2 separate regions of the Homo sapiens genome follow, and region 2 is linked to region 1. Evidence: fine-mapped expression QTL. A gene starts in region 1. The other region holds a variant in brackets. All regions are shown on one strand. Distances are between the middles of the regions.

Region 1 (4,357 bases):
CTGTGGCCTGTTAAGAACCAAGCCGCGCTGCAGGAAGTGAACATTGAGCAAGAGAGCAGCGGTTCCACTCGATTCTCATAGGGGCAGAAGCCCTACTGTGAACTGCGCATGCGATGGATCTAAGTTGCAGGTTGTGTGCTCCTTATAAGACTCTAATGCCTACTGATCTAAGGTGCAACAGTTTCATCCCGAAAACATCCTCCCCTCATCCCCCCACCTGTCCGTGGAAAATATCATCTTCCATGGAACCAGTCCCTGGTGCCAAAAGGTTGGGGTCTTACTATGTTGCCCAGGCTGGAGTGCAGTTACTATTCACAAAGCTGGATGATTGCGCACCTCCGATGAAAGGGGCTCAAAACCAAGGCATTTCTGCCTAATAACCCCTTGGAAGTGCCTTAAAAGAGGGTCAATTATGTGTGCTTTTATATACATCGTCTGTCCAACTGCTTCTGCCTGGACACGCATATTAAAATAATTACCTGGCAGAATATTCTTTGCCTGAGCTAAACCCGGAGATCTTTTAAACGCTTGCAGACTCACAGAGCCTGGCACTGCGGACTTTGCTGCTGCTACCTCGTGAAAAGGAGGGGTACGAGCTCTAGGAGGCTGTCGGCCACGTCCAAACTACCAAGCTAACATCACTAGGAGCCGAACACGGCTTTTGGTCATGTACTGACGACTCTCATCTCTAAGATTCACGAACGGCGACCGATTGTCTGTTCGATTTCCCACAGGCGTCTTCCTTTCGTGCACCAAGAGGGAAAAGCAACGGCGGCTGCAGCAGGGCGCTGGGGTTACGAGTCCAGCCCTGGGGCCGTGCGCCCTCCCTCCGCGCCCGCCGGGCCACGCTGACGCTCCCTCCCGGCTCCCTGCCTTTCATCCCGACGCGGGCGCAGGGCAACTCGCTTTTCCTATTCCTTGCGCGCCGGTCGCACTTTCTAACATCTCAGAAATATGGCCCTTGTCACAGACTTTCATGATCGTGCACTTTAGAGAAAAGCCAGAATGAATGAACTTGTCAGTTTAATGTGAAGTCCTCAAGGGAAAGGACCATGTCTTTGTCATCCCAGAGACCACAGTACCCAACGGTCGGCTTGGCTCTCAGTGAGTGTTTCCCTAAGCATCAAAACAGGAATGACCAAAGCAACGGACAAATTAATGCATGTGGAAACAAGAAATGAATGCATGAGAGAGTGAAGAAAAGAAGGGGCCAGGCGCAGCGGCTTACACCTGTAATCCTAGCACTTTGGGAGGCGGAGGCAGGAGAATCGCTTGGGTCCAGGAGTTCAAGACTGCAGTCAGCAGTGATCGCAGGTCAGGCGACAGAGTGAGACCCGGTCTCACCACCACCCCCCCGAAAAAGGCAGGAACCCCAGAGGGCCGGGAGTGCCAGGTGCGGCCGCCCGGGAGCGGTGTGGAGGGTGCGTGGGCCACTTTGCCGCAGGGCCCACCGCCCGGGTCCCTCTGTAAGGCGCTTCTCCGGCAGACACCCCGAGCCAAAGCGGGCCGTACCGCAGCGTTGGGCACTTGGGTGGAGAGTGCAAGGGCGGCGGGCCTGCGCCCAGACAGGTGTAGCCGTCCCACGCTAGGTGTCCTCCTGCCGCTCCCTGGCCGCGCCATGCCTCGAGGCATGGAGGTGCTGGACCTGCCGGTGTGCAACCGCGCCTCGGGCCTGTCCTGGGGGCCGCACCACAGGTCAGTGCCCCACGGCGCCCTTGGCGTGCCCCACGCCTCCCTGGGGGCCCCACCGCCGCCCCCTTTTGGGACTGCTTACTTCCTCGGCTCTTCTCGCGCGCGCCTCGGTTCCATCCCCTACGGCCCCCACCCCGCCTCCGCGTCGCCGACCCCCTTCTCCGGGAGCGCGGGGAGGCTGGTCCGCTGAAGCGTGGAATAAGTCCCCTAGGACCCCAACTGGGGAAGCTCCGGTCCCCGGTAGGAGGCGGCGGGGCGGGGCGGGGCGGGGCAGCCCCTTGGGGGCGGGGCGGGAGCGCCTGGCCACGCGCCGCATCCTGCAGGGTGCACACAGAGCCGCCTTTCAGCCGCCCGAGAACTGCCCGCCGCACTCCACGACTGCGGCGCCTGCTCTCGGGCCGGGGTCTGCGCGCACCACGCGGCCGGCAGAAAGGGTAAGAGAAGGGAACCCCGCTTTGCAGGGCTCCAACTTCGGCGGACGCGTTACGGCGAGGGCGAAATGAGTCGGCCGTGAACGGTGTTTCCTGTTCCGAATCCCGAGAGCCCTGGAAAGTTTTGAAGGAGGAGGCATGGCCCGGCAGCCTTATCGTTTTCCCCAGGCAAGGATTCCGGAGAGAGGATCAGGTGTTTTCAGGTTAACCGTCAGGTGAGGAGTCTGGGCTTCATCTTTCAGGATGCTGGACTGGAGAAATCTTCCTAAAGTCGATGGCTTTACTTTCGTAGACTAGAGCTTGCTTGCTGCCTTGGGAATGCTTATATTAACTGCTTGCAGTTAGTTAAATAAGGCTAGGCTGTGCCTTCCAGAACAAACAGGCCTTTCCCTCAGGTGGGAGGGTTGTAGTGTGGCTAACCCCAGTTCCTCGGCCTTTATGAAAAGGCGCACAGTTCAGCCGGTTGGCGCTGCCAGCGGGCCCCTCCTCCGTGGTCAAACCTCCAGCCACCCCAGCACAGTTGAGCCAAAGTTGTGAGTACAAACAGACCTTGGCTCCCCCGTTTCCTGCTCTCCAAACATATATATATATATATATATATATATATATATATATATGAAATATATACGTATGTGTAAGTGTGTGTGTCTCTGGTTGAACGGTACTTGTGGGAAACAAAATTGTGTGTCATTGTAAACTGAGAATGGAAGAAAAGGTTAGTAAGAGAAAGGTGGGAGAGGTTTCTTATGGGTGTCAGGATGTAGACTCTGATATTTTATGTAGAGGGAACCAACTACGTAGTTCTCCCCAGAAATGGGATGTGGGTTTCACTCTCAGGAGCTGCTCATCACCTTTGTGATGTGCTAACCAAAATCGCACAACTTTTGGGAAATTTGATAGCTTTCCCCTATTGAGTCAGAAGTTTCTTGAGACTTTAGCCTGTCTTCCTCTTCATACCTTAAGAGGAGTCAAACTCCCGTTGCCGTGAACTTTCCACAGGCACACCCTTCTCCTTTAGAAAACCGTTCATAGGTCAGTTTCTGTGGCCGGAACTCTAAAAACGACACATTTTCCATACAGAGGCCATCATAATACCAATTTTATTTAACCTCCTGTAATAAAAAATGAGTGAATCCTAATAAAGTGTTTGAGGTAGCCACATTCTTTTCTGTGAAGGAGGAACATATCAAAAGTGTTTTTTTTTAAAAAAATAGAGTAATAGATATAAAATATTTTAATGAAGCAAGTGAGAAGAACTGAGAGACATAGTTTGAGCAAAGGGGCACGAAATACAGAACTGAAAGTCAAGAATGATCATATTCACAAGCTGATCTCTTTGGCTATGTCTCTGTCAGTGAAGTGAAACCTAGAACAAGACAATTTTAAAACCGGCGGAAAAAGAGATGGCTTCTTGTGACTATAGCTTTCAAAGTAAAAGTAGTGGCCAAAGAAAACTCTTCTGGCTGTAAAAGTAAAAGTGGACTTTCCTGAAGCTGGGCTGTTTTCTTTAAGGCCTAGGGTCTAAGTTCCGTGTGTCAGTTCTGAAGAATTAAATCACTCTTTAGTGAGCTCTTGTGTCACATGTTAAGGGGTTCATAGAAAAAAGTGCAGGCATACCTTGTTTTATTGTTCTTTGCTTTATTGCACTTTGTAGATACTGCATTTAATTCAATTTTATTTTATTTTACAAATTGAAGGTTTGTGGCAACCCTGTGTCCAGCAAGTCTATTGGTGCCATTTTTCCAACAGCATGTGCTCACTTTGTGTCTCTATGTCACATTGTGGCAATTCTCTCAATATTTCAAACTTTTTCATCATTATTATTATATCTGTTATGGTGATCTGTGACCACTGATCTTTGATGTGACTACTGTAATTGTTTTGGGGTGCCATGAACTGTGCCCATATAAGACAGGGAACTCAATTAATAAATGTTGTATGTGTTCTGACTACTCCACCGACCAGCCATTCTTCTATCTCTTTTCCTCTCCCCAACCCTCTCTATTCCCTGAGACACCACAATATTGAAATTAGCCCAACTAATAACCCTACAGTGGTCTCTAAGTGTTTGAGTGCAAGGGACAATCACAGGTCTCTTACTTTAAAGGTAGGAGTGATTAAGCTTAGTGAGGAAGGTATGTTGAAAGCTGAGACAGACCAAAAGCTAGGCATTTTGTGCCATTTAGCCAAGTTTTGAATGCATATGAGATGTTCTTGAAGGAAATTATAAGTGC
Region 2 (4,396 bases), 62 kb after region 1:
CGTGAGATCACTATATTAAAAATGAAAATTAAGTGAGGAAAATTATTATAAAAAATTTCCAATTTAAAGTATTATGTTTTTCATCCAAGTTAATTGAGAAGAATGAAGATGGGCAGAGACTGCCTAAAACGACCATAGTAGGTTTACGATAGAAATGGTGACACGTCTTGTCTCTGCAGACGGTTTTGATTACAGCATCATCTTTCTGCCTTATTAAAGATCAGTATCTGAATTCTAAACTATTACCAAACTTCAGTTAGCATTATAATCTCAGGGACATCAAAGTTGTGCTAAGATGTTCTTGTTATAAAATGATACATTTGATTGGTAGATGCATCAGGAAATGAAACTAGGTAAGCCTTGGTTTTAACCCAAAAAAGTAAAAGGAGTTATTTTATCTTATGGCTTTTCCTCCATTTGGGCCTGTGGCAGTTGGAACAACAGAAACAACAAAAATAGCAGCAGCTAACACTTACTGCTTGTGTGTTAGACACTCTGCTGGGCATTTCGGTGTTCTTTCTTATTTACTCCCCACAACAACCCAGGGTACTGTTAGCCTCACTTAGGTGCTCTGCAAGGAGAAAAGAGGTTAAAAATGGTAAGTATTCCTTCCAAGTTTGTATACCAGTTCAGCCTTAAGTTTTGACCTTGTTAGTTGCATTAACCAAATCTGTGATCAAATCTGGTTTACAAACTGTTATACATGAATCTTAAACCTCCGTGCTGTCCTACCAGAATAATGTCGAGTAACCTGGAACACTCAGACTTTCTTCTTTTTAGGTGTCACATTTAATATGTCTAGAGAGAATTACTGTTTTTCCTATTTGAGATATTATATAATTAACAAAGTGACAACCTCTGGGTTGGTAGTAAATCTTGATAATATTGCTCTTCATACTCCATGTCACTGCTTTAAAGGTGACTCATGAGAAAAAATTATTCTTTGATATGATCTCTCTGATTTGGAGAACTTACTGTCTTAGAGCCTGGAAAAATGTATTTTTCTTCCTTGCTTGCCTCATGCTCTGAAAGCTTTTCCACCTCTTTGTCACTAGAGGGCAGTGTTGCACTGTGTGGAATAAATACCGTTCCTGAGGATTCGGCTTTAATTCACTGACTCCAAGGTCTGTGGACAAGTGGTCCCATCTCCTTTGCACCCCATCCCCGTCTCCCCTACCTCATCATTATTCTGGAAGGTGCTCAGATAAGATTGCTAGAATTTTACTAGATGGCTACCATTCTCAAGTGCTGTCTGTTAGGCATGGTGCCCAAGATTCTTCATCTCCCTTGCTGTGTTAACCCTTCCCTCCCCTTCTCTGTGAAGAAATCTGATTGTCCTGTTACAGAGAATAGGCACCTTAATATATTAAATAATATTCCTGAGATTACCCAGCTAGAAAGTGGCAGAGATGGGATTCAAACCCAGGTCGGCCTGACTCCAGTACCTGTGCTTTGACCCATACCCTGTAGAGCTTTTCTTGGTATTATCTAAAACAGATCATTGCAAGAGAGCATTTAGCCTGACAAGAAACAGTCTTGTACTTGGAGATCAACTGTGAGAGGACAGCCATGTAATCGGCTTCATTCTTTCAATGGTGTCAAGGTCACCTCATGGAAAATGAGGTTATTTGTTTTGTGAGCCTGACTGCATTTCCATATGTTCAATTTGTCCTTTCAAAGGATCCAGGTGAAACTGGGATGCTCTGAGCCAGCACTGTCCAAGAAAAATACAGTTTGGGCTACAATTGAGAGCCTTGCCTATACTGTAAAATTTTCTAGTAGCTACATGAAGAAATAAAAAAACAGATGAAATTATTTTTAATTATATATTTTAAGCCTAATATACCCAAAATATTATTTCAGCATGTATTCAGTATAAAATATTGAAATATTTTACATTCCTCCATACTAGTCTTTTTGATCTGGTGGATATTTTATCCACATAGCACGTCTCAATTTGGACTAGCTATCTATTGGATGCTGGCTATTCACACATTCCTGGTGACTACCACTATGGACATTGCAGCTCTAGACTTATGTCTTTCACTTAATGTTAGCTTTCCTTTATACCCCTGGAGGAGGGGAGGGATAAGGGATGTCTGTAGGGTTGCCTGCAGGTCTGTTTATGGCATCTCTCACCAGGCTGATATATTGGGGAAATACACAGCTGAGTTAATTCACTGAATGTACAAGTCAGTTGGGGGAGAGAAC[G/A]TCAGTCTGGTTTTGGAACTTTGTGCTTTTCTTCACCATATTGCTGCCTCTTTGAATCTGAAGTTAGAATATTTTATTGCCCCTTGCATCCTTTCCCCCAAATTAATCCAAGCTGTCAGCATGTTCAGGTTCTGCCAGTATCTGAATCAGAGGACTTTCAGGTTACCTGAAGCCTTGAAAAGCTAGGCATTCCAAGCGGGCATTTTTGTGGGATTTTTAGAATCACAGCAACCTTGATTGTGAAAGCTAATTCTTTCTTTAAAACAAAACAACTAAAAAGGAGACATTAGGAAAACCGTTTGACTGATAGCTGGGGTCCCATAACACTTCAGCTTCCTATCTTCCTGTTAGGCATCTGATTTCAGGGGCTCAATGGAAAGGGAGTCAAGATGCAAAAGGCTTCCTGCTGATGTGTATTCCCAGCACTAATGGACTTTGGCACAGTGCCCTTTCAAAATGCCTGGGCACAGAGGGTGAGAGACTGTTGATGTTCTTCCAGACCTCATCTTGAATTATTAAACATTACTCTAATGCGGCTTTTACATTTCCAGAGGACTTTTTTTCCTGTGAGGAATAAATCATAGCCTTGCATTGTCCCCATTTTACAAATGAGAAGACCAAGACTTGAAAAGTTGTTGGACTTCACTGATGCCATGGGTCAAAGTTCAGCAGACTCTGCATTACATTTTCCTCCTTCCAAGCCCTCTGGTTTTAGCCAAGTACCCCTCAGCTAAAACATTTTGCCTAAAGTTTGCATGAGATTCTTGGCACCAGCTCTTAAAGCAAATATTTATGTTGTTCTCTGACATAAGCCATTGCAGGTTATGGTTTCATTGAAATTAAAGGTTTTTGGCCCAACTGCAAACTTATCATTTGTGAAATGAATGGTTGAGTTCTCATCGTGGGCCCAGAGAACCTATGGGGACTCTTTATGGAAATACCCATTTAATACGTATTAAATATCTACTGTGCACCCAACATTGCTAGGTTCTTGTAGACCAAGTTCTTGGAGGGAAGGAACTGTAGTTTGTTCCTCTTTACATTCCCAGTGTCCAGCACAGCACATAGACCATGGTAGGTGCCCAAAAAGTTTGTTTTGAACAAACAAGAAGCAGAGAGAGAGTAGTACCTGCTTTCCAGGGGCTTATGATCACTCAAGATCCAAAGGAATGCCTTACAAATGTGGTCCTTCTAGACTGGAAGCACATTAGGACCTTGAGTATTTTTAAGCTCACTTCTACTATGGAATTTGGCCACTGAAATAGACTCTGGTTCACAGCCACTTCTTGTACAAAATGGCAGGGTGTTACCAAACACCTAAAATTGACTGGGTCTCTGTTTTAACTCTTTGGTGTGTTAAAATAATTCTCATGTTCACAAGAGGAGGGGGAGGTAAAATGGTTATGAATAATGTTAATGTTGAGACAGATATTGTGTGTAGCCTGGTAAGTAACTAAACAGAAAATTAAAAAATGAATGTGACATGTACTGACAAACTAGCTATTTGCAGTTGAAACCTGAAGCACAGACAGTTGTGCTTGGAGTTAGGGGTTCTTGAAACTAGAGAAAGGAGTTGACTGGATTCCAAAAGAAACTAAGAAATGTGAATTATTAATGGTGCTGTCAGAGTTGTAGTTGACATCCATAGAAACCAACTTTAATGTCAATGTTTTCAGCTTTAACTTCAATGTTTTAAGGCTTGTGTAGCGTATGGAAAATATTTACTCTGGCAATCGCCTGTTTTACTGTTAAATAATCTACATATTGTTAAGTGATCTGTTCATTTGGATATTTCCTCTAGGTCTTTTTGGAGGAGGACTTTAGTTCATCAGAGTTTTTGCTGATGCAGCAAAGCCATGGGTGGGATCCTTGTTTGGGGTGCGTTTGTAGACCTTCTCCCTTGGCCACCAACTTTACCTTGCCTGGTCCAGCCACGTGGCTGGTAGTGTAAGGCACGGTGTTTGTATCTAGTTGGAGTACAGGGAAGTGTGTATAAAAACAATTAGAAGACCATAGTTCATTCTGTGATTCTTACCGATACGGAGTGCAGAGAAAGGACTAGAACTACCAGGGCACTTGGTCTTGAAGTACACTCTGAAATGACCCTTGAACATTGGCTTAATTGGACACAGAGAAGAGAAAGAAGAATAGAGCAGGTGAGGAGAATAAATTCCATGAGGGAAAA

Direction of the effects. Alleles are on the strand shown, and positions count from the first base shown. SD is a standard deviation of normalised expression in the study named.
In carriers of allele A in region 2, the expression in spleen of the gene that starts at base 2,021 in region 1 tends to be lower than with G alone (small effect, 0.29 SD a copy in GTEx).

Evidence for each region. PIP is the estimated chance that this variant, and not a neighbour inherited with it, causes the effect.
Region 2: its variant is fine-mapped to the expression of MCOLN2 in spleen (GTEx, PIP 0.99).

The regions. Positions count from the first base shown.
Region 1 is chr1:84,994,777-84,999,133 of GRCh38, reverse strand. MCOLN2 (mucolipin TRP cation channel 2) reads left to right here and starts at 2,021. Exons shown (of 14, transcript NM_153259.4): 1 at 2,021-2,338. The coding sequence starts at 2,262. RefSeq lists enhancers at 287-1,158, 3,479-3,538 and silencers at 1,729-2,018, 2,629-2,678.
Region 2 is chr1:84,933,068-84,937,463 of GRCh38, reverse strand. The region is part of intron 11 of MCOLN2 (mucolipin TRP cation channel 2); the gene reads left to right. Among named protein-coding and RNA genes, the nearest start is that of LPAR3, 42 kb to the right of the region's middle. The variant G/A (reference allele first, on the strand shown) is at 2,212.